Linked DNA regions of Homo sapiens: region 2 is linked to region 1. The links come from fine-mapping of genetic effects on gene expression. A gene starts in region 1. The other region holds a variant in brackets. All regions are shown on one strand. Distances are from middle to middle.

The links. PIP is the estimated chance that this variant, and not a neighbour inherited with it, causes the effect.
Region 2: its variant is fine-mapped to the expression of TCF25 in whole blood (TOPMed, PIP 0.95).

What each region holds. Positions count from the first base shown.
Region 1 is chr16:89,866,255-89,880,871 of GRCh38, forward strand. It overlaps TCF25 (TCF25 ribosome quality control complex subunit), which reads left to right and starts at 7,338. Exons shown (of 18, transcript NM_014972.3): 1 at 7,338-7,605. The coding sequence starts at 7,414. SPIRE2 (spire type actin nucleation factor 2) reads left to right here. Exons shown (of 15, transcript NM_032451.2): 13 at 1,935-1,962; 14 at 3,313-3,428; 15 at 3,796-5,065. The coding sequence ends at 4,018. LOC112268179 (a long non-coding RNA gene) reads right to left here and starts at 7,234. Exons shown (of 2, transcript XR_002957933.2): 1 at 6,714-7,234; 2 at 4,123-5,667. RefSeq lists enhancers at 6,096-7,052, 6,823-6,982, 13,251-13,920 and silencers at 7,063-7,182, 7,653-8,122.
Region 2 is chr16:89,890,121-89,904,737 of GRCh38, forward strand. It overlaps TCF25 (TCF25 ribosome quality control complex subunit), which reads left to right. Exons shown (of 18, transcript NM_014972.3): 6 at 2,073-2,155; 7 at 3,608-3,738; 8 at 4,918-5,017; 9 at 5,870-5,963; 10 at 8,437-8,529; 11 at 8,647-8,752; 12 at 10,515-10,674; 13 at 13,998-14,085. Among named protein-coding and RNA genes, the nearest start is that of MC1R, 21 kb to the right of the region's middle. The variant A/G (reference allele first, on the strand shown) is at 7,926.

The sequences.
Region 1 (14,617 bases):
GAGCATGTGGTGTCTACATTTTAATTCTCTCATGTTTGAATTTTTTTTTTTTATTTTTTTGAGATAGAGTTTCACTCTTGTTGCCCAGTCGGAAGTGCAATGCCGCGATCTCAGCTCACTGCAACCTCTGCCTCCCAGGTTCAAGTGATTCTCCTGCCTCAGCCTCCTGAGTAGCTGGCATTACAGGCATGTGCCACCACACTTGCTAATTTCGTATTTTTAGTAGAGATGGGGTTTCTCCATGTTGGTCAGGTTGATCTCCAACTCCCGACCTCAGGTGATCGCCCACCTTGGCCTCCCAAAGTGCTGGGATTACAGCGGTGAGCCACCACGCCCAGCCTTGAATTTTTTTTTTTTTCTTTTTTCTTTTTTGAGATGGAATCTCACTCTGTCACCCAGGCTGGAGTGCAGTGGCACAATCTCGGCTCACTGCAAGCTCCACCTCCCGGGTTCACGCCATTCTCCTGCCTCAGCCTCCCGAGTAGCTGGAACTACAGGTGCCCGCCACCAGGCCTGGCTAATTTGTTTGCATTTCTAGTAGAGACGGGGTTTCACCATGTTAGCCAGGATGGTCTCGATCTCCTGACCTCGTGATCTGCCCATCTCGGTCTCCCAAAGTGCTGGGATTACAGGCTTGAGCCACCGCGCCCAGCCTTGAATTTTTTATAAGAAGGTATTTATTTTTGAAATCAGATATGGGAATTAAAACAAAATTGAATCACTGTTTAAAACTGAGCATCTCAGTTGAGGCCCCTCTAGCTTCCATGGTGCTTTTATGGTGAGTAGTGTCAGGTACACACCAATGTCTACACGTCTTCTTAGAAGGAATCTTAGATGTCTTTCCAAGACAGTGTGCAAGTTTTTTTTTTGTTTTTTGTTGTTGTTGTTGTTTGCTTTTTGTTTTTTTTGAGACAGAGTCTCTCTCTGTCACCCAGGCTGCGGTGCAGTGCCATGATCTCGGCTCACTGCAACTTCCGCCTCCTGGGTTCAAGCAATTCTCTGCCTCAGCCTCCCGAGTAGCTGGGATTACAGGTGCCCGCCACCATGCCCGGCTAATTTTTTGTATTTTTAGTAGAGACGGGGTTTCACCATCTTGGCCAGGCCGATGTTGAACACCTGACCTCGTGATCCACCTGCCTTGGCCTCCCAAAGTGCTGGGATTACAGGCGTGAGGCATCGCGCCTGGCCGACAGTGTGCAGTTTTTAAAGACCCTTGTAGGTTTTTGTTTTTAAACTTTCCAAAAGTATGTGACCCATCATGGCTTGGTTCAGAAAGACCCATCATGCCTTGGTTCAGAAACAAAAATCTGCTTAAGAGGGACTTTTACCACCATTTTTTTTTTTTTTTGAGACAGAGTTTCGCTCAGTCCCCCAGGCTGGAGTGCAGTGGCGTGATCTCAGCTCACTGCAACCTCCACTTCCCAGGTTCATGCCATTCTCCTATCTCAGCCCCCCAAGTAGCTGTGATTACAGGTGCCTGCTGCCACGCCCAACTCATTTTTGTATTTTTAGTAGAAACGAGGTTTCACCTTGTTGGTCAGGCTTGTCTCAAACCCCTGACCTCAGGTGATCCACTTGCCTTGGCCTCCCAAAGTGCTGGGATTACAGGCGTAAGCTACCACATCTGGCCCACCACCACTATGTTTAAACCTTACTCTATATCCTACCACTTGGCAATAGAAAACTTGGCAGGAGAAAACTCCTGGAGCCATCCTTCCTGAGAGAATGCCAAGGAGCACATATATTTTGGGTGGATACCTAAGTATAAAGAAAAGCAAGATTTTGGAGTAAAATAAAGTACTGAAGTAACCAAGCATCAGGCAGAAGGCAAGGATGGTTTGACCTCGGATGCGTGGAGGCCGGGATGCGACTGTTTCTCAGCTGTTTGTGGGCTTCCTCCCTGCTGATGCTGCATTTCCTCTGTTCCCTTCCAGAGCCGTCTGCACTTCCTGTAGCATAAAGGTGAGGACCATGTGGGATCTCTGGGGTCTGAGCAAGGCAGATGAGGGGCTCCACTGGCTTTGATTGGATGTGTTGGATGATGCTGCCTCACCAGGCACCTCATCCATTTCCTTTCAGGCAGAATCCATTCCTATACTTTCCAAGATAGTGTGCAGTTTTTAAAGACCCTTACAGGTTTTTGTTTTTAAACATTGCACGTTAGTAGCCTCGTGCCAAAAAACCCTTCACTTCCCCTCTAAAAGTCCTACCTTCTTACATTCTATAACTTTTTGGGTGTTTTAGGAGGGGCTTCTTATTGCAGTTGAGGTGTGTGCTTATGTGCAGGTGCACAGAGGTAAAGGGATCCTAACATTTAAAAGTATGTCAGCTGGGCACGGTGGCTCACACCTGTAATCCCAGCATTTTGGGAGGCCAGTGAGGCTGGCGGACCACTTGAGACCAGCCTGGCCAACATGGTGAAACCCCATCTCTACTAAAAATACAAAAAAATTAGCTGGGCATGGTGGCACGCACCTGTAATCCTAGCTACTCAGGAGGCTGAGGCATGAGAATTACTTGAACCCGGGAGGTGGAGGCCACAGTGAGCTATGATTGTGCCACTGCACTACAGCCTGGGTGACAGAGACTCCGTCTCAAAAAGACAAAATACAAATAAAAGTATGTCACCAGCCAGGCGCGGTGGCTCATGCCTGCAGTTCCTGCACTTTGGGAGGCTGAGGTGGGAGGATCTCTTGAGCCCAGCAAATTCAAGGCTGCAGTGAGTATGGCTGTGCCTCTGTACTCCAGCCTGGGCAATAGAGCAAGATCTGTGTCTTAAAAAAAAAAAAAAAAAAAAAAATATATATATATATATATATATGTTACCCCTCAGGCCTCAGTTCAGAAGCAAAACTCTGCTTAAGGAGTACTCTTACTACCACTATTTTTAAATCTTACTCTACATCCTGCCACTTGGCAATGGAAAAACTTCCACCTCATCCATGTTAAATGTTGATTATGTGCAGGGTAAGGTGGCAGGTCCCGTATAGTATAAAAAGGGAAAGTTCTTGCCCTCTAAGGAGCCCCTGTCCAGATGAGCAGGAAACGTGGCAGGTCCCGCATGGTATAAAAAGGGACGGTTCTTGCGCTCTAAGAAGCCCCTGTCCAGATGTGCAGCAAGCAGGAACCCCGTGCCAGTCTTCAGCCAAAAGGCACAGAGGAGACATCGGAGAGCACAGGGACAGAGAATATTCTCCAGGAAGCCCTGGCTGCCACGCAGGTCCCAGACTGGGGAGGGAGGTCCCCTAGCACTGAGTGTACCTGAATGTCTCTGGTGGTGCCTGGTTCATACCTCCTCCCTCTGTGCTGCAGATGAAGATGCCTTCTAAGAAATTTGGACACATCCCTGTCTACACACTGGGCTTTGAGAGTCCTCAGAGGGTATCAGCTGCCAAAACCGCGCCAATCCAGAGAAGAGACATCTTTCAGTGCGTTCTTCGCCTTGCTGCTGATGTCACTGTGGTGGTCGGGCGTGAAGAGGAACTTGGGAGCTGGGGTGGAGGGGGCTGGCTTTGTCTGTTTGCTAGGACACCCCAAGGAAATGGAAATGCAAGGCAGAGACGGATCGTTGTGTAGGGCTCTGGGAGGCTGAGCAGTATGAGATGGAAACTGGACTTGGGTGGTCAGGGAACAGTCTGCTGAGATGAACACTGCTAGCTGTGTTTGTTGCCTGAGGGCCAAGGGGAGGCCTAGGGTGAAAGGCAGCCAGGAGGGGGCTGTGGCATGCACAAGCAGGGAGGGGGGTGTGGCACCCTGGCTGGCTCCTCTCCCTGAGTGCCCTCTCCCACTTCCCAGGTCTCTGCAAGGGCCACAGTGGCAGAGCGTGGAGGAGGCGTTCCCCCACATCTACTCCCACGGCTGTGTCCTGAAGGATGTCTGCAGTGAGTGCACCAGCTTTGTGGCAGACGTGGTGCGTTCCAGCCGCAAGAGCGTGGACGTCCTCAACACTACGCCACGACGCAGTCGCCAGACCCAATCCCTCTACATCCCTAACACCAGGACTCTTGACTTCAAGTGACAGCCCCAGGTGGCCAGGCCTCCAGGAGGCACCAGGCAGGCCCTGTATCAGGCTAGGACGCTCTGAGCTGTGCATGTACATATATACATATATAGATACATTTATAATATATACACACAGTCTATATATTTATATACACTGTTTCCTGGCCCCAGAGCTCATTTGGGTTCAGGCGCACTTCAAAACCCTCCCTGGGGGAGGCTGTTTCTTCTCAGGATTCCTTGCCAGGGAGGAAGGGGAGGGAACAGGGTGGGTTTTCTCACTGAAGAGAGAAAGCAGAAGGTTCTAGATCCTGGCACAGACTGCATCCCATGTTCCCATGCTCTTCTCCGTCCCCAGGAATGCGAACGGCAGTTTCCCTTCCCCAGTGGACGTCTAGGTGGGGACAGGGTATCTTGGCTCCCAGCTGGACCAGAGTGCCCTGCTTGCCTCTGCTCTCCCTTTGTGGGGACTCAGGCAGCAGAGGCATCTGGGAAGTCTCTGAGTAGGCAGGGTCCTCCTGGGAGGCACCCCCACCTGTTTGAAAGGTCTGGCCAGGCGTGGTGGTTCAGGCCTGTAATTCCAGCACTTTGGGAGGCCGAGGAGGGAGGATCACCTGAGGTCAGGAGTTTGAGACCAGCCTGGCCAACATGATGAAATGTTGTCTCTACTGAAAATGCAAAAATTAGCCAGGTATAGTGGCAGGAACCTGTAATCCCAGCTACAGGGGAGGCTGAGGCAGGAGAATCGCTTGAACCCGGGAGGTGTAGGTTGCAGTGAGCCGAGATTGCACCACTGCACTCCAGCCTGGGCGACAGAGCGAGACTCTGTCTCGAAAAAAAAAAAGGTCCGTGCCAAGCTGCTCCCTGCCCTTGCCCTTTCCCTTTCCCTGGGGTCCAAACCACATGTGTCCTGCCTCTCCTGGCCCTACCACATTCTGGTGCTGTCCTCACTCGCCCCTGGCCCAGAGGCTCCTGAAGATGCTGGGCGGTCCTGGCACAGGGAGGAGCAGCTCTGTAAATCTGTGCACATGGCCACTCTTGGCCTAATAAAGGAGGTCTCACAGTCTTCTGTCTGGGATGTGCGCTGAGGATTCACCCAGCATGGCATGTTCTCCCAAGGTTGAAGCTGGGCTTGAGGGGCCACCTGCCTTCCAGGACGAGGAAAGGCCTCCTGGCTTAGAGTCAGGTGCCCACCAGGCAAGGGCTCCAGGCCTGCTCTGTCCACGCAGCCCTGGCTGCCTCTACCAGCTTCGTGGTCCTGGCCACCATGGTCAGGGCTGCATGCGGACGGCACAGACTACTGCCCATCAGCTCCTCTGGCCACACCTGCTGGCCTGGGGGGTACTTTGGTCTCATTTCCCAGATCCGTATTCTCGTTCTCCAGGGAGAGGATCCACAGGGGCAGGAGGTGTGACTGCAGGCTCTAGACAGGCCCTGTGCCGAGTGCTGTCTGCTCACCTGCGCCCGGCTCAGCCTGTTAACGGGGCCCTGCCCTGCTCCTCCGTGACGTTCTGCCGTCATCTTACCTTACAGATGAGGGAACTGAGGCTCAACGAGGTCAAAGAATTTGGCCAAAGATACACAGCTCACCCAGAACTTTGACTCCAGGCTGTAATGCTAGCCGTGGGGCCTGGAGGTCAGAAGGGACAGGACTTGTAACTGATGGGCCTGCGGGAGAAAATACTCCTGTCAGCTGGGGTCCAGGAAATCCAAACACACAAAATTAGAGCCCCCAGTAAAAACAGCCAGCTTCTAGCATGCGTGTAAGCATTTCACGGACTCTCTGGCCTGTATTTTTATTCCTGTTTAAAAATAAGAAAACAGGCACAGAGAGGGTCAGGGAACTCCTCCGGTCACACAGCCAGCAATAAGCTAATGTGTAGTGCTTGGTAAGGACGACGGTTGTTCTGGTTCTACGGGGACTCACACTCCCTATCATGGGGAGACTGGGTTGTAATTCATACAGGAACACTTGGAAATGAAAGCCCACGTTAAAACCCTAAACCACGGCAGGTGCAGTGGCTCACACCTGTAATCCCAGCACTTTTGGAGGGTGAGGTGGGCAGATCACTTGAGGTCAGGAGTTCGAGACCAGCCTGGCCAACATGGTGAAACCCCATCTCTACTGAGTACAAAAATTAGCCGGGCATGGTGGCACATGCCTGTAGTCCCAGCTACTCGGGAGGCTGAGACAGGAGAAGTGCTTGAGCCTGGGAGATGGAGGTTGCAGTGAGCCGAGATTGCGCCACTGCACTCCAGCCTGGGCAACAGAGCAAGACCTCATCTCACAAAATAAAATAAAACCCTAACCCATCCTGGGAGGGGCCAGGCCGGCTCACCAGGGCTGCTGCTTGTGCTCATGAAGCCGCAGTAAGTCGGGCAGGAGGCTGCTGGCACCTGTCTTCTCTATGCCCTCCTGTCCCCATGTCCCCAACCCCAGGCACAGGAAGCTGTGCCCTCCGCCCACTGAACCCAGCACTGTCTCAGCCTCATCTACTTTATTTTTTTCATTTTTTTGAGACAGGGTCTGGCTCTGTCGCCCAGGCTGGAGTGCAGTGGCGCGATCTCGGCTCACTGCAGCCTCAGCCTCCCGAGTAGCTGGGATTACAGGCGTGCGCAGCCACGCCCAGCTAATTTTTGTATTTTTAGTAGAGGGAGTTTCACCGTGTTGCCCAACCTGGTCTCGAATTCCCGACCTCAGGTGATTCGCCCACCTTGGCCTCCCAAAGTGCTGGGATTACAAGCGTGAGCACCGCGCCCGGCCCTTAGATCGTGACAAACGCGGGCGGCCTGTCCTAGAACTGTCAGAACCACTGTCCCTAAAGAGGCCTCGGGCGGGCAGTAAGGGCCGCGTCACTCAATGCTGCTCGAGGGGCGGCGGCTCCAGGGCAGAGGCGGGCATCGACGGCTAGATCACTCGAATGACACCCTGACACGAAAAGGACCAACTAGCAACGTCCGGGACGCAGCTGAAATGCTGCAGGCACGGTGCGGGGACAGGCCCCGGCGGGCAGAACGCGGCTGCGGGTTCCGGGCCACATGGATGGGCAAGGCCGGGCAGGGCCGACTGTCGCCGGCTGCGCGCCCGTTACCCCGAATCGAAGCCCGTCATCCCCGCGGGGCACCTCTCCATGCCCGGTGCGCACGGCGCGCAGACACCCAGCTCTCCAGAGACCTGGCCCGGACCCCCCGGAGCCCGCCCAGACGCCGCCGCTGAAGCGGGAAAGTTCCGGAGAGCCGCGACGCGCAGGCGCCGCAGCCAGGTCCTGCCCCCACCCCTCGCGCCAAGAGTGCGCAGGCGCGCAGCCAGCTCCCCCGCCCCCGACCCCGCGCGAAGAGTGCGCAGGCGCGCCGACAGCCGAGTTTTCTGCGCTTCCTTCTCCCTCTCTCCAGACGTCGTGGTCGTTCGGTCCTATGTCGCGCCGGGCCCTCCGGAGGCTGAGGGGGGAACAGCGCGGCCAGGAGCCCCTCGGGCCCGGCGCCTTGCATTTCGATCTCCGTGATGACGATGACGCGGAAGAAGAAGGGCCCAAGCGGGAGCTTGGTGTCCGGCGTCCCGGGGGCGCAGGGAAGGAGGGCGTCCGAGTCAACAACCGCTTCGAGCTGGTGAGGAGCGCGGCGGCCCGGGTGGGGGTGGGGTGGCCCTTGACGTTGTGGGGCGGGGCGAGCGTCCAGCCGGGTCGGGGAGCGGGGTTGTGATGCCAGGGGTGGGAAGGGTGACGTGGGTCCCAGCCGCAGTGGGGAGGGCGGGGCCGTGCGTCGGGGCCAGGGCGACGCGGGTGGGCGGTGGCGTGGGGTGAAGACGGCGGGCCGCGGAGTTAGACTGGGTTCTAACCCCGGTGAGGTGGGCGGGGCTAAGGGATGGGGCGGGGCCGTGCTGTCGGGGCGGGGCGACCGAATGGGCGGGGTTAAGCGGGGTCCGGGTTGTGGAGGGTGCGGGGCCTTGATGCCAAGGGCGTGGCCAACGTCCGCGGGGCCGGGCCACGACGTGGGCGGGATTAAATGGGCCTGCGGCCACGTGGCTGTCGTGGGGCCGTGACGCTAAAGGGCGTGGCTAAAGACGGGGGGGTGGCGAGGCGATGGCGTGGGCGGGGTTAAATGAGGCCTGGGGCCACCGTGGGGGTGGGGCCACGGCGTAGGGGCAGGAGTCGGGTGGGGCTTCCCTTTCTCGAGTCTAGAGGGGCCTTCTCTCGGTTCCAGGGTTGAGGACTTGCCAGGCCTCTGCGAGCATTCTGCTTTAATCCTCACAACAACTCTGCCTAACCCAGGGCCTTGCTCTTCGCGCATCCCCATCAGCCTAACCCAGCGGATTAGTCTTACTCTTTGCTGCATCTCCGGCAGCTCGTTTCTGGCACAGGGAAGTAACAGTTTGACTGTATGGTTTGCTCATGCGGTCCTGTGACGTTTTCTCCTAAGCCCTGGCCTCCGTCTGTAACTCTGCCTCTGCGGGCTCTGCGATCCTCCCACCTCAGCCTCCTGAGTATCTAGGACTACAGGTGGATGTCACCACGCCCGGCTAATTTTTTTTTTTTTTCTTTTTTGTAGAGAAGAGTTTTCGCCTTGTTGCCCAGGCTGGTCTAGAACTTCTGCGCTCAAACAATCTGTCCACCTCAGCCTCACAAAGTGCTGGGACTACAGGCGTGAGTCACCATGCTTGGTTGACTGCCCTTCTCGCATCAAGTCCACCTTTAGTGGTCCCCAAGACCCCCGTCAAGGTTCAGTAATTTGCTAGATTCACAGCAGTTACTGAAAGCTTTTTGTTTTGAGATGGAATCTTGCTCTGTTGCCCAGGCTGGAGTGCATTGGCACAATCCTAGCTCACTGCAACCTTGAACTCCTGGGCTCAAATAGTCCTCTCACCTTGGCCTCTCAGAGTGTTGGCATTAGAGGCATGAGCCACTGTGCTTGGCCCCGTAAGTCTTTTTAAATTTTTGTCAATGTAATTTGTGAAAAATGATATCACATTATTTTATTTTACACTTCTTTGGTAGTGAAATGCAGCACCTAGCTATGTATTCGTTGACCATTTATATTTCTCTTTGTGACAACCTGTTTATATCTTTGCCTTTTTATAGGGGGTTTGGACAGTCTTTTTGCTCGTGGAAGCTTGCTATCGATTGTCTCTAACGTATTTTCTCGGTTTGTGTTTGTTCTTTAACTTCTTTAATTTCTGCGTGCTGAAAGATACTGGAGCCACTTTTCTCATTGTTACACATCCATCTCTCTAGAGTGTCTTCACATAGATATTCCCTGACGTGAGTTTTTTTTTTTTTTTTTTTTTTTTTTTGAGATGGAGTCTCGCTCTGTCGCCCAGGCTGGAGTGCAGTGGCATGATCTCGGCTCACTGCAAGCTCCGCCTCCTGGGTTCACGCCATTCTCCTGCCTCAGCCTCCCAAGTAGCTGGGAACACAGGCGCCCGCCACCACGCCTGGCTAATTTTTTGTATTTTTAGTAGAGATGGGGTTTCACCATGTTAGCCAGGATGGTCTCGATCTCCTGACCTCGTGATCCGCCTGCCTCGGCCTCCCAAAGTGCTGGGATTACAGGCGTGAGCCACTGCGCCTGGCTTTTTTTTTTTTTTTTTTTTTTTTTTTTGGTTACAGACAGGGTCTCACGGTGTTGCCCAGGCTGGTTGCTGGTCTTGAACTCCTGGGTTCAGGTTATCCTCCTGCCTCAGCCTCCTGAGCAGCTGGGACTACAGCATACCCTACCATGCTCAGCTTGTTCTTTTAATGCTTTTTTTTTCCCATTTAAATATTTAATCTTTTTGGTATTTATATTTGTGTTGGTGGGAATTTGGAAAAAGTGTGGTTCATGAGTTGACAGAGTAAGAGTCTGTAAGGTCAGAAACCACACAAACCCTTGTGGACTTTCTGGAGTGAGTTTGAGTGTCAGTAACACTAACAGCCTCCATGGATGAATGACTGCTTATCGTGCTGTGTTCTTAGGAATTTCAGAGAATTTTATCCAGTGGCACACATCAGTCTTAATTTAAGCATTCCATACTTTTTTGCTCTTAAAACTCATATTTGGAAATAATATAATCAAAATGTTTATTGGCATTCTGTTAAATAGCTCTTAATAAACAGAAGTATGGGAGACAGTAAACAGCCAGTTACGACTAAATGGTTATGAATGTGAATGCATTGGTGAGAGACATGGTGTTTCTCTTTTTAAAAAATTTTATTTATTTAGAGACAAGATCTCTTTATGTTGCCTAGGTTGGTCTTAAACTCCTGGGCTCAAGAGATCCTTCCGCCTTGGCCTCCCAAAGTGCTGGAATTGCAGCTCCCAGTACTTTGGGAGGTGGGCAGATCACCTGAGGTCAGGAGTTCGAGAGCAGCCTGGCCAACATGGTGAAACCCCATCTCTACTAAGAATACAAAAATTGGGCCAGGCGTGGTGGCACATGCCTGTATTCCCAGCACTTTGGGAGGCCGACGTGGGCGGATCATGAGGTCAGGAGATCCAGACCATCCTGGCTAACACGGTGAAACCCCGCCTCTACTAAAGAAGTACAAAAAAATTAGCCGGGTGTGGCGGCGGGAGCCTATAGTCCCAGCTACTCAGGAGGCTGAGGCAGGAGAATGGCGTGAACCCAGGAGGCGGAGCTTGCAGTGAGCTGAGATCGTGCCACTGCACTCCAGCCTGGGCAACAGAGCGAGACTCCATCTAAAAAAAAAAAAAAAAAAAAAAAAATTGGCCAGGCATGGTGGTGGGTGCCTGTAATCCCAGCTACTTGGGAGGCTGAGGCAGGAGAATTGCTTGAACCCAGGAGGTGGAGGTTGCAATGAACTGAGATTGTGCCACCAGGCTCCAGCCCGGGCAATACAGCGAGACTCTGTCTCAAAAAAATAAATAAATAAATAAATAAATAAATCGTAATAATAATTATGGATTTGTCTATTTCTACTTTCAACCCTGTCAGTTTTTGCTGTGTGTGGGTGTGTGTGTGTTTTGGTTTTTTGGAGACAGAGTCTCGCTCTATTGCCCAGGCTGGAGTTCAATGTCACAATTATAACTCACTGTAATCTTGAACTCCTGGGCTCAAACCATCCTCCCACCTCAGCCTCCCAAGTAGGTGGAACTATAAGTGGGTGTCACCACACCTGGCTAATTTTTTCAATTTTTTTTGAAAGCCAGTGTGCTGGGATTATAGATGTGAGCTACCATGCCTGGCCTAGAATCTTTTCTGAACTGATTGGTAATGAAAATAGCAACCTATCAAAATTTGTGGGATGCAACTGAAACGATGATTAGAACTTTATCATCGTAAATTTTAAATTAGAAAAGTGTTTAAAAATCTAGAAATTTACCTGAAACTTCTACCTTAAACTAGAAAAAGAGCAAATTAAACTCAAAATGTGTCGAAGGAAGAAACTAATCAAAGAGGGGAATGCACAGAATAGAGTATGGACACGATGGAGAGAATCGGTGAGACCGAAACTTGGTTCTCTCAAAAGACGAGTTGGCAAAAACTCTAGATTGACTGATGGAGGGAAAAAGGGAAGGTCCAGGTACGTTACCATTTTCAGGGATGGGAGAGGAGTGTTCACAGGTACAGATGGTGCAGATAGTAACGGGCGATAAGGAACTTCTTGCTAATAAATTTTCCAGATTAGACAAATGGGCAAGTTCCTTTAAAGATAAAACTTATCTAAATTGACATGTGAAGAAATAAAAAAATCTGAGCCCTTTTATCTATTAAAGATACTGAATTTTTTAAAGTATAAAACATTCCAGGCTAGGGTTGGTGGCTGACACCTGTAATCCCATCACTTTGGGAGGTCAAGGCAGATCCATCACTTGAGCTCAGGTGTGTGAGACCAGCCTGGGCAATGTGGCAAAACCCCATCTCTACAAACAATACAAAAAAACTGTCCAAGTATAGTGGCACTCACCTGTGGTCACAGCTACTCGGGAGGCTGAGACGGGAGGATGGCTTGAACCCAGGAGGTCGAGGCTGCAGTGAGGTGAGATGACGCCACCGTACTCCAGCCTGGGTGACAAAGTGAGACCCTGTCTCAAAAAAAAAAAAAAGACAACCTCAGGCTGGGTGCGGTGGCTCATGCCGGTAATCCCAGCACTGTGGGAGGCCAAGGCGGGTGGACCACCTGAGGTCAGGAGTTCGAGACCAGCCTGGCCGACATGGTGAAACTCCGTCTCTATTAAAAATCACCATTTTTTTTTTTTTTTTTTTTTTTTAGGAAAAATGGACATTTTCCTCTCCCCCTAAAAAAAGATAAAACTCCTTCCTGGTTATTAACTGAAATGCTGATCGAGCTTTATCCTAAAGAAGATCAGTCGTGGACAAGAACCTTGTGAAATGTTCCCCATTTGAGACCCTAAAACTAATGAAAATCACAGCTTTTGGGTAGGTAATAAGGTGTTTTGTTTTGTTTTTTGAGACGGAGTCTTGCGCTGTCGCCCAGGCTGGAGTGCAGTGGCACCATCTCAGCTCACTGCAAGCTCTGCCTCCTGGATTCACTCCATTGTCCAGCCTCAGCCTCCTGAGTAGCTGGGACTACAGGCGCCCACCACCACGCCCGGCAAGTTTTTTTGTATTTTTAGTAGAGACGGGGTTTCACCGTGTTAGCGAGGATGGTCTTGATCTCCTGACCTCGCCATCTGCCCACCTCTGCCTCCCAAAGTGCTGGGATTACAGGCGTGAGCCACCGCGCCCAGCCAGTAATAAGGTTTGTCTGACGGTGATTGACAGCATTTTAGAGCTGATGCATGGCAGTAGAGATTGCAGCAAATCATGTGTCATCACCAAAACTTCACTGAAGAAGCAAAACTAGGCCTGTCACCCGTGCTGTCTGTGTACACAGATGGGCTTCAGAGCCTGTCACACGTGTTGTCCGTGTACACAGATGGGCTTCGGGGCCTGTCATACGTGCTGTTCGTGTACACAGACGGGCTCCTGGGCCTATCACCCGTGCTGTCCGTGTACACAGATGGGCTTCGGGGCCTGTCACACGTGTTGTCCGTGTGCACAGATGGGCTTCGGGGCCTGTCACACGTGTTGTCCGTGTACACAGACGGGCTTCAGAGCCTGTCACACGTGCTGTTCGTGTACACAGACGGGCTCCTGGGCCTGTCACACGTGCTGTCCGTGTACACAGATGGGCTTCGGAGCCTGTCACACGTGTTGTCCGTGTACACAGATGGGCTTCGGGGCCTGTCACACGTGTTGTCCGTGTACACAGATGGGCTTCGGGGCCTGTCACACGTGTTGTCCGTGTGCACAGATGGGCTTCGGGGCCTGTCACACGTGTTGTCCGTGTGCACAGATGGGCTTCGGGGCCTGTCACACGTGTTGTCCGTGTGCACAGATGGGCTTCGGGGCCTGTCACACGTGTTGTCCGTGTGCACAGATGGGCTTCGGGGCCTGTCACACGTGTTGTCCGTGTGCACAGATGGGCTTCGGGGCCTGTCACACGTGTTGTCCGTGTGCACAGATGGGCTTCGGGGCCTGTCACACGTGTTGTCCGTGTGCACAGATGGGCTTCGGGGCCTGTCACACGTGTTGTCCGTGTGCACAGATGGGCTTCGGGGCCTGTCACACGTGTTGTCCGTGTGCACAGATGGGCTTCGGGGCCTGTCACACGTGTTGTCCGTGTGCACAGATGGGCTTCGGAGCCTGTCACACGTGTTGTCCGTGTACACAGACAGGCTCCTGGGCCTATCATGTGTGCTGTCTTTGTAAACAGTCAGGATCCCAGGACTATCACGCGTGCTGTCCATGTACACAGGCAGGCTCCTGAGCCCATCACACGTGCTGTCCGTGTACACAGATGGGCTTCAGAGCCTGTCACACGTGTTGTCCATGTACACAGACAGGCTCCCGGGCCTATCATGTGTGCTGTCTGTGTACACAGGCAGGCTCCTGAGCCCATCACGCGTGCTGTCCGTGTACACAGGCTCCTTTCCATTGAAGTTCAGCTTGGCATAGAGCTTTTTATGAATTCGATTTGTCAAACACCTCAAAATAAGAATTTTTTTTCTTAGGAAGTCAGCATGAGTTAATAAAAGTAAATTGGGTGTTGGCCGGGCGCGGTGGCTCACGCCTGTAATCCCAGCACTTTGGGAGTCTGAGGCGGGCAGATCACCTGAGGTCAGGAGTTCGAGACCAGCCTGGCCAACATGATGAAACCCCATCTGTACTAAAAATACAAAAATTAGCCTGGCATGGCGGCACATGCCTGTAGTCCCAGTTACTCGGGAGGCTGAGGCAGGAGAATCACTTGAATCCGGGAGGCGGAGGTTGCAGTGAGCCAAGATCATGCGATTGCTCTCCAGCCTGGGCAACAGAGCAAGACTCCATCTCAAAAAAAGAAAAAAAAAAAAGTAAATTGGGTGTTGTGGCGTGTGCCTGTAGTCCCAGCTCCTGGGGAGGCTGAGGCAGGAGGATCCCTTGACCACAGGAATTTGAGGCCAGCCTGGGCAACACAGTGAGACCCTATCTCTAAAAACAGACAAGTAAACCAGCACCCAGCTTCACTAAGAGACATCATCATTAGTTGAATGTTGGAGATGGTGTAGATCCAATTTACCAGTGACCACCCACAGGTTAGAAACATTTCAACAATAGGCTTTGTTTCAGCTTTCTTCCTTT
Region 2 (14,617 bases), 24 kb after region 1:
CGGCCTCCCAAAGTGCTGGGATTACAGCCCTGAGCCACTGCGCCCGGCCTCCCAAAGTGCTGGGATTACAGGCGTGAGCCACCACACCCAGCCTAAGTGTTGTTTCTGCACCATGGTATACCCAGGTCATTTCCTCACCCCAATGGTAGCATGTGTCCAGATGTTGGCTACAGTCCCCGGTGTCTGCAGGCATTTCTGTGAAACTGCCCAAGAATGAGTATATATCCTGCATGCTGCCAGTGCCTTCAGTAGAGTTACGTGGCTCACACTGAGTGTCTGCCCAGGTCCTTCACCTTCTTACTCGTAGTCGACGGTAGTGGTTTGGAAACCTGCCGTCGTGTGTGGGCAGAAGTGTTGGGGTTTTGATTGTGGGTAGATCAAGGATGTTTTCATATGCTGTTGTTCACGCCTTCCCTGGATTTCTAACAGGTTTTGCTTTATATTTTACTTTACATTTTTGGTGTTGATGGGTTTCTTCGGGAATATTAATTAAAAATAGACTTTAAAATGTCACTTTGTCATCTGCATTTCTCTGAGCTGAGGGTTCCACCTCGTCCCACCCTTTGTTTGCATCTGCTTGGTCTGTCTTGGTCATTTCTTTATATTTTTGCATGGTTTTATTTCTGCAAATTATAATTATTAATAGTAATTAGTATTATAACTGTTAATACTGATTACTCGTAGTAATTAGTTGACAATAATTGCCTTTATTATTTTTATAGTATTATTAAACTTTTTTGTTTATTTATTTCTTTAAAAATTTAAGTCCTACCAAAAGACTTACATGGAGAAGCCACAGTTTCCTTTTTATTCATTCCTTGTCCTGCTCCTCCAAGACAAAGACCTGGCCTGTTTCCATTTCTCCTTCTGGTGGTTCTCTCAGAAGCTCAGAATAACAGGCACTGCTTTCTCTTGGGTCCTTGACTTCCTACTACGACAGCCCGGTCAGCTCATCGCCCCCGCACTTCAGCACACTCCTCCCATTGCTCAGGGCGCCTGCCAGCCTTCAGAGCTCCTCCAGGCTCCTGTCCCCTGCCCCCTCCTGGCATCTGCCCAGGCTGCCTCGTTGGGTCTGTTCTGGAGGCTTCCTTACTTGTTTTGTGGGATAGCTCACCGCAGGTCAGGCCATCCCTGGGATTCTGTACATCTGGCCCAGGAGAGTGCTGAAGGGCTGACTCTCCTAGGCCTGGGCGTGTGCTACAGGCAGGAGAAGCAGGCTGGGGCCACCTTCATGTCAGGAGGGCCCACCACACTGGCCTCCACTCTGCGGTGGCTGAACTGTGGGGAGCCCGGGGCCAGGGCAGGGATGGCCCCGTGGGAAGGGAGCTGCACCGTGCTGATGGTGACCGTGGGCATGGCTGCTGCTGTCTGTGCTGCCGCGGCTGCCACGCCCCACCTGTCTGGTGCCTGTGTGCTCAGGCAGAGTGCCCTGACCTCTGTTATTTGGGGGTCTCTGCCACAGGGGTCAGGCCCACTCTAAGCACTGGTCAGCTGGTATCTGAGCTGGGCAGGTGGGGCAGCATGGAAAAGGCATGGAGCTGCTGTTACCTCAGAGATGGTTGGTTTCTTAAGTTGAGTGATGGGCATGTGGATATTAGTACGTTGTTCTCTTTCTTTTCGTTTTCTTTTTTTATTTTCCTCTTGAGACAGGGCCTTGCTCTGTCGTCCAGGCTGGAGTGCTGGGATCACAGGTGCAGGCCATCACGCCAGGCTAATTTTTAAAACCCTTTGTAGAAATGGGGTTTTGCTGTCTTGCCCAGGCCAGTCTCGAACTCCTGGGTTCAAGAAATTCTCCCATCTTGGCCTCTCAAAGTGCTGGGATTACAGGTGTGAGCCCCCGTGCCCAGCCAGAATTGTTTCTTTCTCTCTATGGGGCCCTCCCTGCTGCACCCGTCCCACAGCAGTTGCTGACGCTTGTTTGCATCCTGTCCTTAATGCGTCCCCACCCTGCCCCACATGCCTTCTCTGCCCCTCAGTTTTGCTTCCACAGCCCGTGCAGGGATCAGGCAGCCAAGCCTTGGTCCCCACACGCCACAGGAAGTAAAGCTGTACCTGTGTCCCGTTCTCCCCAGGCCACGGCAGAGACAACGTGTGTACCCCAAGTGCACATGGCTGACCACCCCTAAAAGCACCTGGCCCCGCTACAGCAAACCAGGTGAGGGTCTGCAGATGCTGCTGGGGATGGAGGGTTGGGGGGCGTTGTCTGTGCACTGGCCCCGGTACAGCAAACCAGGTGAGGGTCTGCAGAGGCTGCTGGGGGTGGAGGGCGGCGGGGGGGTGTGTTCTGTGCACTGGCCTGCGCTGGGCACCAGGGGCGTCAGTGCCTCTTGAGCCGAGACTCTTTGCTCCAGGAGCGCTCCAGGAGTGTGCAGTGTGTGACTGTTTGTTGCCACACTGAGGGCCTGAGTGCTGGAGGCCTGGCCCAGTACCTCAACACGGAGCCTCCCAGGCACAGTCTTTGTGTGACTGTCTTTTAACGCAGGTTCTTCCTACCATTCTGCCATCGACCTTTCCCTTATGGAAGCAATCGAGTTCATTTTAAACTGCAATATTTTGTATATTATTGCAAACTAATAAGTGATTTTAAGATGAATTGCAACAGTGAAGACAGGCATGGAGTGTTGGGTGCTTGGTTGTGTGGTGTGGGGAAGTGTCAGGAGGCCTTCCACACTGGCCTCCACTCTGCAGTGGCTGAACTGTGGGGGCCCTCAGGGGCCAGGGCAAGGACAGCTTGTGGGAAGGGAGCTGTGTGGTGCCCTTGGTGATCGGCATGGCTGCTGCTGTCAGCGCTGCCATGGCTCCCACGGCCGCTTCTCCTGCGCCTGTGTCTGTGGGGGTGCCGGAGATTGCCTGCATACATTCTGTAAGGACACATCTAGGAGCGAGGCCTGTGCTGTCAGAAGGTGAACCCCGCTGCTCACGGCCCCTTCCCTTCCTGGCAGGAACCCCTGCTCACTGCAGACAGGGGTTCCATGGCCATGTATTCCTGCAGGACTGGGGCCTTGGGCAGGGCCATCAAGAAGGTATCACTACAGGGGACCTAGTCCATGGAGGTCCTGGGAGGCTGAGCTTTCCAGGTTTATCAGAAGAAACTGGGTCCCATACACCCAGTCAGACAAGAGGAGCCAAGTGAGAGGGTGGTCACACGTTACAAAGCTCTGTGGCTTCAGAGGCCTGGCGCTGTGGCCACCTGTGCCACCGCACTCCAACCCTGTCCTTCCACAGCCACCCCGGACATTCTCCTCAATCAGACGTGGTCTGGGGACAGTGCTCGGCGTGGTCAGATCTGGCGATCTGTGGACTGTGTGTGTCCTTGTCCCTGACATTCCCTCCAGGCCAGTGGGGCTAGAGCTGTATCCGAGTTCTGGAGGCAAACACGTCTTGATAGGAAACTAAAGCAGACGGGATGCCGTCTCCTGGTGTAGACCAGACGGCGGGTGTTTTGGGAAGGTGTCCGGAGCTGGTGACACCCATGAGTACACACTCAGGTCAAGTTTGTCGATATCGCAGAGGCCTCATCCAGAACACCACGAAGGTGAGGGCTGTGCTCGGAGCTGCCCACGTCCCTGCTCCCGGCACACCCTCCCTGAGCACTCTCCCCTCCCAGGTCTGTCCATGCGGCTGCTGGAATCAAAAAAAGGCCTCTCCTTCTTTGCGTTTGAGCACAGTGAGGAGTACCAGCAGGCTCAGCACAAGTTCCTGGTGGCCGTGGAGTCTATGGAGCCGAACAACATCGTGGTGCGTGGTCCCTGCAGCCCCTGACAGGAGCAGGGGCCATGTAGCCACCACTGCCCTGGGCCGCCTGCTTCCCTGGTGGCTGGGGGAGGCATGCTGCCTCCTGCCCTTCCCAACAGGAAGGGTGCCAGTCTCTGCAGGGCGGTCTGGCCCTGTGACCAGAAGGAGATGTGTTCGGAGGCTCTAGGCCAAGCGAGCTCCATCCATACTCAGAGGAGAGGCTGGAGCGCTGCTCTCTCAGCCGTTCCTGGGGACCGTCGCAGTAGTGCCGTGTGATGCAGGCCCAGGACTCTGGGGCTTCTCACTGCTGCCCTTGCCTCCTGCGGCTCAGTGCAGGCGAGCAGCTCAGATTCCCGGCCCCCGTGCAGCCCCCGGACGGCCCCCACACGGCCCCGGACGGCCCCCGCGCAGCCCCAGACAGCCCCGGACCTGGACAGTCCCCGTACAGCCCCGGTGCAACCCTGGACAGCCCTCATGCAGCCCCTGGACAGCTCCCCTTGCAGCCCCGGACGGCCCCCGCGCAGCCCCAGACAGCCCCCGGGCGGCCCTCACGCAGCCGCCGGACAGCTCCCCTTGCAACCCCGGACAGCCTCCGCAGAGCTCCCCGTCATCTCCCTGTGGGAAAAGCAGGCTGCTGCTTTCCATTCCTCTTTCTTGGGGCTTAGTGGGGAGTTAGGTGGCCCCTGGCCTGGGCATGTCAGGTTCTGAGTTCTTGCTTTAAGTCATATAATTGGTTCAGCTTAGCAATAATAACTAGCCTATTTTGAGTTGGGGGGACGTTGTGAGTGTCGACCCGGTAATTCCCCCGTTTTTGTTTTTGTTTTTGGAGTCGGAATCTCACTCTGTCGCCTAAGCTAGAGTGCATTGGCGCAGTCTCGGCCCGGGTTCAAGCGATTCGCCTGCCTCAGCCTTCCGAGTAACTGGAATTACAGGCACACGCCACCACACCCGGCTAATTTTTGTATTTTTATTAGAGACCAGGTTTTGCCACGTTGGCCAGGCTGGTCTTGAACTCCTGATATCAAGTGATCCTCCTGCCTCAGCCTCCCAAAGTGGTGGGATTACAGGCGTGAGCCACTGCGCCCAGCCTCCGCTGGTTTTAAATGTCTGAAAAAAAGGCATGCCTGGGAGCTGGGGCCTTGCTGAGTGCCTTTCCTCCAGGGCTGTCCTCCCTTCTGGTAGGTTCTGCTCCAGACGAGCCCTTACCACGTTGACTCACTCCTGCAGCTCAGCGATGCCTGCCGCTTTCAAGAGGATCAGGAGATGGCTCGAGACCTCGTAGGTAAGGCAGAGCCCCCACCCCATTCCCCTCAGCTGTGGGAGCACCTCAAGCTATCAAGACAGATGCGATGGTGTAAGATGACAGGGGTTGCCAGGATATCCATGACAGCTTTATTGAGATACAACCTACGTAGCACAAAACTTACCCATTTAAAGTTTTTGTTTGTTGGTGTTTAATATATGCCACAGCCTCCCGAGTAGCTGGGACTACAGGCGCCCGCCACCAGACCTGGCTAATTTTTTGTATTTTTAGTAGAGATGGGGTTTCACCGTGTTGGCCAGGATGGTCTCGATCTCCTGACCTTGTGATCCACCCACCTCAGCCTCCCAAAGTGCTGGGATTACAGGCATGAGCCACCACGCCCCGCCCTCTGGCTTTTATTTACAATGAAGTTTTCAAGGTTCATCCTCACTGTAGCGTCGATCAGAACGTCGTTCGTTTTTATGGCTTAGTAATACTCCACTGTGTGGACGGACCACATGTTGTGTATCCATCATTAGTTGACGGCCGTGTGGGCTGTTGTAAATAATAGTGCTTACGTCAGCATGCACACGCAGTCTTAGGTGGACACATCTGTGCTGCACACATGGACGCCTGGTTCTGTCAGGACGTGGCAGCAGTTGTGCCTCATGGTGTTGAAAGTGTTACCATGTCAAGCTCACAAGTTCTGTGGTTGAAATAAATGCAGCGTGGCATCCAGGGTGCCCAGGGGCATGTCTGCCCTCTCAGTGTCCAGGACTCTAGTTTCGTGACCTTCCGTCCAGACCTTTCCTTGTTGTCCATTATCAGAGGAGGGGCCGTGGTTGCTGTGTGTGGCCATGACACCCTCCCCTGGCGTCCCTGTGCCCACAGAGAGAGCGCTGTACAGCATGGAATGTGCGTTCCACCCCCTGTTCAGTCTCACCAGTGGGGCCTGCCGGCTGGATTACCGCAGACCCGAGAACAGGTGAGTGCAGCTGCCCTGGAGGTGACGCAGCTCCCCTTCCCTTCTCCTGCGAGTGAGGCTGGGGGAGGTGCAGTGGGCACCTCATGGCTGCCCTCCAGGGTGGACCAGGGCCCACAGGTCCAGAGTGACCCACCTTCCTCTCTCTGGGCTTAAGGATAGAGGGATGGGATTGTCTCAGCCCAGGTTTACCTTTGTCTGTGGACATGCCTGATGCTACTGTGGAGGTCAGAGTGGGAGGTCTGCTGAGCCCAGGAGTTCAAGTCCAGCCTGGGCACCATAGTGAGACCCCCATCTCTTAAAAAAATAAAAATAAAAATAAATGTTTGTGTTAGAAGTGAGCCTGGCTGGGCACAGTGGTTCACGCCTGTAATCCCAGCACTTTGGGAGGCCGAGGTGGGAGGGTTGCTTGAGCCCAGGTGTCAAGACCAGTCTGAGCACCGTGGCAACATGCAGTCTCAAAACAGCATTTTTTTTTTTTTTTTTTTTTTGAGACGGAGTCTCACTCTGTCACCCAGGCCGGAGTGCAGGGGCGCGATCTCGGCTCACTGCAAGCTCCACCTCCCGGGTTCAAGCCATTCTCCTGCCTCAGGCTCCCGAGTAGCTGGGCCTACAGGCACGTGCCACAACGCCTGGCTAATTTTTTGTATTTTCTAGTAGAGACGAGGTTTCACTGTGTTGGCCAGGATGGTCTCCATCTCCTGACCTTGCGATCCACCCGCCTCGGCCTTCCAAAATGCTGGGATTACAGGCGTGAGCCACCGCGCCCGGCCACTACAGAACATTTTAAAAACTAGCTGCGCCTGGTGGCGCGTGCCTGTGGTCCCAGCTACTTGGGAGGTTGAGGCGAGAGTATCACTCAAGTGAGCCCAGGAGGTCGAGGCTGCAGTGAGCTGAGATGGTACCAGTGCACTCCAGCCTGGGCAGCAGAGTGAGACCTTGTCTCTCAAAAAAAAAAAAAGAAGAAGAAGAAGAAGTGAGCCTGAGAAACCAGATCTCCACAGTGGGCTCTGCAATTGCATTTCCTTCTATGTTTGGCTGAGAAAACCCATCCCTGGCAAGTTTAGAAGCTTTGGAAGGCTTTGCAGGTTTGACCTTAAATCAGTGAGGAGCTCAGAGTCAGCCTGACCCTCGCTCCCCTGTGCTGAGCGACCGCATGTGGAGGTCTCTCTTCTTTCAGATACTTCTGCCCCTAAAGCCATCCCTCTGGCATCAGGCCTCGCTGGTCAGACCTAGACTGGCTTCCGCCAGGCCTTCCCGCAGCCTGTCCTGTGGGCCCTTTGTGGAGCAGACCAGCTTCTGTCCGCTGTCCTGCCTCTCCTGTGTGCAGTGCCCTGTTTCTCTGGCCGCCCTGGGTTGTCTGCAGTGTGGGATCCGCTCCTACCCTCTCAGCCCTCCTGGCAAGCCAAGGTCCGCTGACCCGTTCTGCACAGATTGTCTGCACTGTGTGCTGGGTCTGAATTTCCTCCACTGGTTTTCTTTATGTTAGTTTTGTCTCTTCCAATGAAATTCTTAGTTCTTTGAAGTAGATTATAAAATATTAATATTTCCCGACGCGAAAGAGACAGTGGGCTGTTGATGGAAGTAGCAGCCCACCAGCATCCGAAAGTCACAGGGCTCCATGTATCCAGCCTGAGTGCTGTTAGCCACTGTTGAGATTGGAGGATAAATTAAGATCGTAATTGTAACAAGAGATTTTAACTCTCTTCCTGTAAATGATAAATAATAAACAAAAAAACAAGATAAAGATTTCAGCGGGGCGTGGTGGCTCACGCTTGTAATCTCAGCACTTTGGGAGACCGAGGCAGGTGGATCACAAGATCAGGAGATCGAGACCACGGTGAAACCCCGTCTCTACTAAAAATACAAAAAATCAGCTGGGTGTGGTGGCGGGTGCCTGTAGTCTCAGCTACTTGGAGAGGCTGAGGCAGGAGAATGGCATGAACCCAGGAGGCGGAGCTTGCA[A/G]TGAGCCGAGCCGAGATAGCGCCACTGCACTCCAGCCTGGGTGACAGAGCGAGACTCCGTCTCAAAAAAAAAAAAAAGATTTCAAAGAAGTTTGATTTTCAGTATGCAAATTCGTGTATAACTCTGTAAAGGACAAGGAGAGCGCACACCTCCTCTCCAGACATGGATCTCTGTGTGCTGGGCACGTAGAAAATGCCAGCAGAACCCAGAGAGCAGAATGGGGGTGGAGCGGGTGCTGACCGGGGCGCTAAGCAGTGTGTGGGGTGGAGCGGGTGCTGACTGGGGCGCTGAGCAGTGTGTGGGGTGGAGCGGGTGTTGACTGGGGCGCTGAGCAGTGTGTGGGGTGGAGCGGGTGTTGACTGGGGCGCTGAGCAGTGTGTGGGGTGGAATGGGTGGTACTGGCCAGGACGCTGAGCAGAGGGCGGGGTGGAGTGGGTGCTGGCCGGGGCGCTGAGCAGAGAGCATTCTCCTTTGTGTCGTTGTAATTCATGTGGAACTATTTTGGATCTAGGAGCTTCTACCTGGCCCTCTACAAGCAGATGAGCTTCCTGGAGAAGCGAGGCTGCCCGCGCACGGCGCTGGAGTACTGCAAGCTCATCCTGAGGTGAGTGTCTGCTCAGGGCCAAGCCCGTCCACGCTCCCTGTCCTGGCTGCAGGCCCACTCTCAGCCTGACGATGCCCCTGTTCCCCTTTGCTCTGCTCTCTGTGCTGCCTCCGGAAGTCTCGAGCCGGATGAGGACCCCCTCTGCATGCTGCTGCTCATCGACCACCTGGCCTTGCGGGCCCGGAACTACGAGTACCTGATCCGCCTCTTCCAGGAGTGGGAGGTGGGTGCGAGCCTGGTGAGGCCCCGTGGAGGGACGGACACCTGCTTCTCCTTCTGTTTTCTTGGTTCAGTATCTGTGCGCTCAGGGGACGTTTGGGGATGAAACGATAATCGTCTGAGGGCAGAACCACGTCCTCCTGCCTTGTTTGTCTCCCTTGCCGCCTCTACGGAGTGGAATGTGGTTTTCCTAGGGACAGTACAGCAGCCTTATGTCAGAATCCTCATACGTGTGTACACATGCTCAAACGTGTGTACACATGCACACGTGTGCCTGCAAGGACTGTGATGCTGGTAATGATGAAAAACCGACAACTCCCGAGCTCCTCATGGGCAGTTCAGGAAGATGCAGCCGGGAGGTAGAAGGAGGGTTGGTTGCGTGGGGCTGACACAGGGACCCCCAGCACGTCTGTCCTGTTCCATGGGAAGAGTGTGAGTACAGCAGGAGAGACTTGAGCTCTGTCCCCAGTAACTCTAACACAGACACGTGTTGGAATGATAATTTCGGTGTATTGGGTTAGATATAACGTATTAATCTCACCTGTTTTGTCTTTAATGCAGCTCCCAGAAAATTTAAATTGGGCCGGGCATGGTGGCTCACGCCTGTAATCCCAGCACTTTGGGAGGCCGAGGCGGGCGGATCACCTGAGGTCAGGAGTTTGATACCAGCCTCAACATGGAGAAACCCTGTCTCTACTAAAAATACAAAATTAGCTGGGCGTGGTGGTGCATGCCTGTAATCCCAGCTACTCGGGAGGCTGAGGCAGGAGAATCGCTTGAACCTGGGAGGTGGAGGTTGCGGTGAGCCGAGATCGCGCCATTGCACTCCAGTCTGGGCAACCAGAGTGAAACTCCGTCTCAAAAAAAAAAAAAGAAAATTTAAATTGACACCTGGGCTCCCATTATGTTCCTATGGGGCAGCACTTATCTGGAAGGACACGGGCTTTGTAACGCTAACCTCCAGCAGGGCCTGGGGCTGGGGAGAAGGCGACAGCTCTTGACTTTCTCTGCTTCTGTGTTGAATTTTTTTCATAGCACATGTTCATGGATAATGAAAGTGGGTAAATTATTTTGAATTTTTAAGCATTTGGCATAGTTGGCCAGGAAGTCTCACCCCCAGGAATGTGGTTTATAGAAATTCCTGGAGCTCACAAAAATGTAGGTGCAGGGAAACCTCAGGGAGTCCCCCAAAATGGGGCTGCAGAAGAATGTTGATGATGGTGTTTAAGGTCACAAAACTGTGAGTCTGTGATCCCATTTTGATAGAAAAAAATGCAGTGAGTCACATGTCTACAATATGTGACATAGGCTGAGAAAGGCAAGAGAAACTGGCACGGTGGTAGACTGCTCGGAAACTCGCGTGGCGGGCTGCTCTCGGAAACTCGCGCGGCAGTGGGCTGCTCTCACAGACTCGCGCGGGGGTGGGCTGCTCTCGTCTGTAAATTTTCCACATTGAGAGCACCAACTGCTCAGCTTCAGAGAGGAGCCTGGGCGGCAGGTGGGACCCTCACTCCCCACGGTGTCCTCGCTCCGGCTCAGTCTACTTCTCAGGCCCTCCCACGTCCTCTGTATCTTCTGCATGCGGAAAGCCCCCCAGGTGGACGTTTTAAGTTATCTTTATGCTGAGTTAGGAAGAGGCCCTTGCGTTGCCTGCAGAATATACCTGCTCGGGGTAGGGCTCACTGGTGATGTCAGAGCGTCTGCAAACTCACATATTTTGTCTTTATGACTTAAGGCTCCACGCTCTGTTTCTTCGTCCCTCGTAGGCTCATCGGAACCTGTCCCAGCTCCCTAATTTTGCCTTCTCTGTTCCACTGGCGTATTTCCTGCTGAGCCAGCAGACAGACCTCCCTGAGTGTGAGCAGAGCTCTGCCAGGCAGAAGGCCTCTCTCCTGATACAGCAGGCGCTCACCATGTTCCCTGGAGGTGAGTGAGCGCTGTGTCTCGCCTGGGGTAGGGGTGTGTCCTGTCAGCCGTGGGGGCTGCTCTTCCTGGTGGTGGAGGCCAGGTCCCAGTCCTTCCCCACACTTGTAGAAACATGCATTCTCTGGTAGGGCCTGCAAACCTGCCCTACCAAACCTGAAAGAGGGTCGGCTCATCTCGGAACCCGCTGCGTGCCAAGCCAGGCACGAGGAGGTGGCAGGCATCCCGACCCCCGTGGGGCCTGTGTTCTAGAGTGCAGAGACAGAACTGGCTGGGAGGTGCGGGGCATTGGATTGTACCAGTGCTGGGGAGGAGAGCAAAGCAGGGGAAGGTCTCGGCAGCGCCGAGGTGTGGCCGAGAGGGTTGTGCTCTGCACCATGCTGGGATGCAGAATGGAGGCCTGTGCCGCCCAGATGGACTCAGCCTGCACAGCCGTGACCCCTGACTGCATCTGGGTAGCTTCGATCCACGCACATGTGGCGGGCACAGTGAGGCTGCCACCTGGTCAGACCTCGGGGCTGACCCTGCCTGACAGCATGTGTGAAATCCCTCTTTAAGATGGGCCTCCTCCGAGGAGCTGTGAGGGGTGAGGGTGAAATCCCTCCTTAAGACGAGCCTCCTCTGAGGGGCTGTGAGGGGTGAGGGTGAAATCCCTCCTTAAGACGGGCCTCCGGCCGGGCGCGGTGGCTCACGCCTGTAATCCTAGCACTTTGGGAGGCCGAGGTGGGCGGATCACGAGGTCAGGAGATCGAGACCATCCTGACTAACACGGTGAAACCACGTCTCTACTAAAAATACAAAAAATTAGCCGGGCGTGTTGGCGGGCACCTGTAGTCCCAGCTACTTGGGAGGCTGAGGCAGGAGAATGGCATGAACCCAGGAGGCAGAGCTTGCAGTGAGCCGAGATCGCGCCACTGCACTCCAGCCTGGGCAACATAGTGAGACTCCGTCTCAAAAAAAAAGAAAAAAAAAAAAAAGACGGGCCTCCTCCGAGGGGCTGTGAGGGGTGAGGGTGAAATCCCTCCTTAAGACGGGCCTCCTCCGAGGGGCTGTGAGGGGTGAGGGTGAAATCCCTCCTTAAGATGGGCCTCCTCCGAGGGGCTGTGAGGGGTGAGGGTGAAATCCCTCCTTAAGACGGGCCTCCGGCCGGGCGCGGTGGCTCACGCCTGTAATCCTAGCACTTTGGGAGGCCGAGGTGGGCGGATCACGAGGTCAGGAGATCGAGACCATCCTGACTAACACGGTGAAACCACGTCTCTACTAAAAATACAAAAAATTAGCCGGGCGTGTTGGCGGGCACCTGTAGTCCCAGCTACTTGGGAGGCTGAGGCAGGAGAATGGCATGAACCCAGGAGGCAGAGCTTGCAGTGAGCCGAGATCGCGCCACTGCACTCCAGCCTGGGCAACATAGTGAGACTCCGTCTCAAAAAAAAAGAAAAAAAAAAAAAAGACGGGCCTCCTCCGAGGGGCTGTGAGGGGTGAGGGTGAAATCCCTCCTTAAGACGGGCCTCCTCCGAGGGGCTGTGAGGGGTGAGGGTGAAATCCCTCCTTAAGATGGGCCTCCTCCGAGGGGCTGTGAGGGGTGAGGGTGAAATCCCTCCTTAAGACGGGCCTCCGGCCGGGCGCGGTGGCTCACGCCTGTAATCCTAGCACTTTGGGAGGCCGAGGTGGGCGGATCACGAGGTCAGGAGATCGAGACCATCCTGACTAACACGGTGAAACCACGTCTCTACTAAAAATACAAAAAATTAGCCGGGCGTGTTGGCCGGCACCTGTAGTCCCAGCTACTTGGGAGGCTGAGGCAGGAGAATGGCATGAACCCAGGAGGCAGAGCTTGCAGTGAGCCGAGATCGCGCCACTGCACTCCAGCCTGGGCAACATAGCGAGACTCCGTCTCAAAAAAAAAGAAAAAAAAAAAAAGACGGGCCTCCTCCGAGGGGCTGTGAGGGGTGAGGGTGAAATCCCTCCTTAAGACGGGCCTCCTCCGAGGGGCGGTGAGGGGTGAGGGTTATTTGCGTGCAGCTAGTATACACACATTACGTGACCACTCATCGCCTATTAGGATGTCCTGGAAGCAGCATCCCTTTCTCGGTTCTGTGGGTTTCCAGGGCTCTGTCTGGGCCCCGAGGAGGCCCACGGCGTGGGGTTGGGCAGCTTCTAGCACAGGCAGAAACGTGCCCCCCAGAGGGGCCTGGCCAGGCCTCAGTCTGCTCGCTGACCCCAAAAGTTTCGTCCCCTGTGTCTAAGAAGCACCTTTGTCCTCCTCTGGGGCTGCATGCAGCTGGCCATATGCTCCACCAGTGCAGCCGTGTCTGGAAACGCGGCTGGGAGGCCCTGTCCTTTGTGGCAGAGCTGTGCTGCTGTGTCACAGGCTGTAGCGTCAGCACCTCCCTTGAAGGCAGGTGGGCTGCCAAGAAGCCGCTGCCACTTACCCCAGAACACTGGAGATCACTGCAGGCTCTGCCCTCGGGGCCCGTTCCCCTACATGGCGGCCTCTGCCCTCAACCTGCAGTGCTGGCTCTTCCACTGGGCACAGGTGGCCTCCGCTCCCACCAGCCTGCCATGGGGTCCAGTCTTTGTGATTAAAACATCCAACCGGCCGGGCACGGTGGCTCACGCCTGTAATCCCAGCACTTTGGGAGGCCGAGGCAGGAGGATCGCTTGAGCATAGGAGTTCGAGACCAGCCTGGTCAACACGGTGAAACCCTTTCTCTACCAAAAATATAAAAATTAGCCGGGTGTGGTGGCGGACGCCTGTAATCCCAGCACTTTCGGAGGCTGAGGCAGGTGGATCACCTGAGGTCAAGAGTTCAAGACCAGCCTGGCCAGCATGGTGAAACCCTGTCTCTACTAAACATACAAAAATTAACCGGGGCGTGGTAGTGTGCGCCTGTGATCCCAGCTACTCGGGAGGCTGAGGCAGGAGAATCGCTTGAGCCTGGGAGGTGGAGGTTGCAGTGAGCCGAGATTTCGCCAACGCACTCCAGCCTGAGCAACAGAGTGAGACCCTGTCTCAGAAAAACAAAAAAAAACCCAACCCCATGTGTGTGGAGGGTGGTGGGTGAGTCTTCCCTTGGATGCAAATGGGGGCCCTGGCAGCCTCCTTGGGGCTGGTGTGAAGGAGACCCCCAGCCTCAGACCCTGGGCACGCCAGCAGCAGCAACTCAGAATACCACCCGGAAGCAAGCCGCTGGCCCTGCAGACTCTCCACCTTAGAACAGCTGTGTCTGTGACAAGGACCTCGCTGTGTCCCTTACTGCCTTGGGGGCTAGGAGTGGCTGGGGTGTGTGCTGAGGGCCCCCACAGAGCCTCCGCTTCCCCTGCAGTCCTCCTGCCCCTGCTCGAGTCTTGCAGTGTGCGGCCCGACGCCAGCGTTTCCAGTCACCGCTTCTTTGGACCCAATGCTGAAATAAGGTAAAGAGTGGCTGGTGGTGCCCATCTGTGGGTGCCTGTGGGTTCGGAGCCTGGGAGCCATTTTCACTCATCCTGAGAGGCCCTGAGGGACCTGCTTCCAGCAGCAGGAGGGGCTGTGGTGGCGGCCTCGGGGACTGTCATTTGACATGGGACGGCTCTGGAGCCCTCATCTGTGTGGAAAAGTCCAGGTGGGACAGCTGAGCAGCCTCCAGCTTAAAAACGAGGCTCATATAAAGAGGGTGCCAGGCGTGGCGGCACATGCCTGTAATCTCAGCTTTTTGGGAGGCCGGCTTGTGCCTGGGAGGTCAAAGGTACAGTGAGCTGTGTTTGTGCTGCTGCACTCCAGCCTGGGTGATGGTGAGACCCCGTCTCAAAAAACAAAATAAACAAAGAGGGAGCAAACACAGGAGAAAGTGCACGCCTTGGGGTCATCCCCTGGCCCTCCAGGGCTCGCCCTGTGTGCACGCAGATGGACCCGCCCTGGGTGCATTTTCACATTTCTGTGACGTCAGTCCTGCTTCCTAAAGAACAT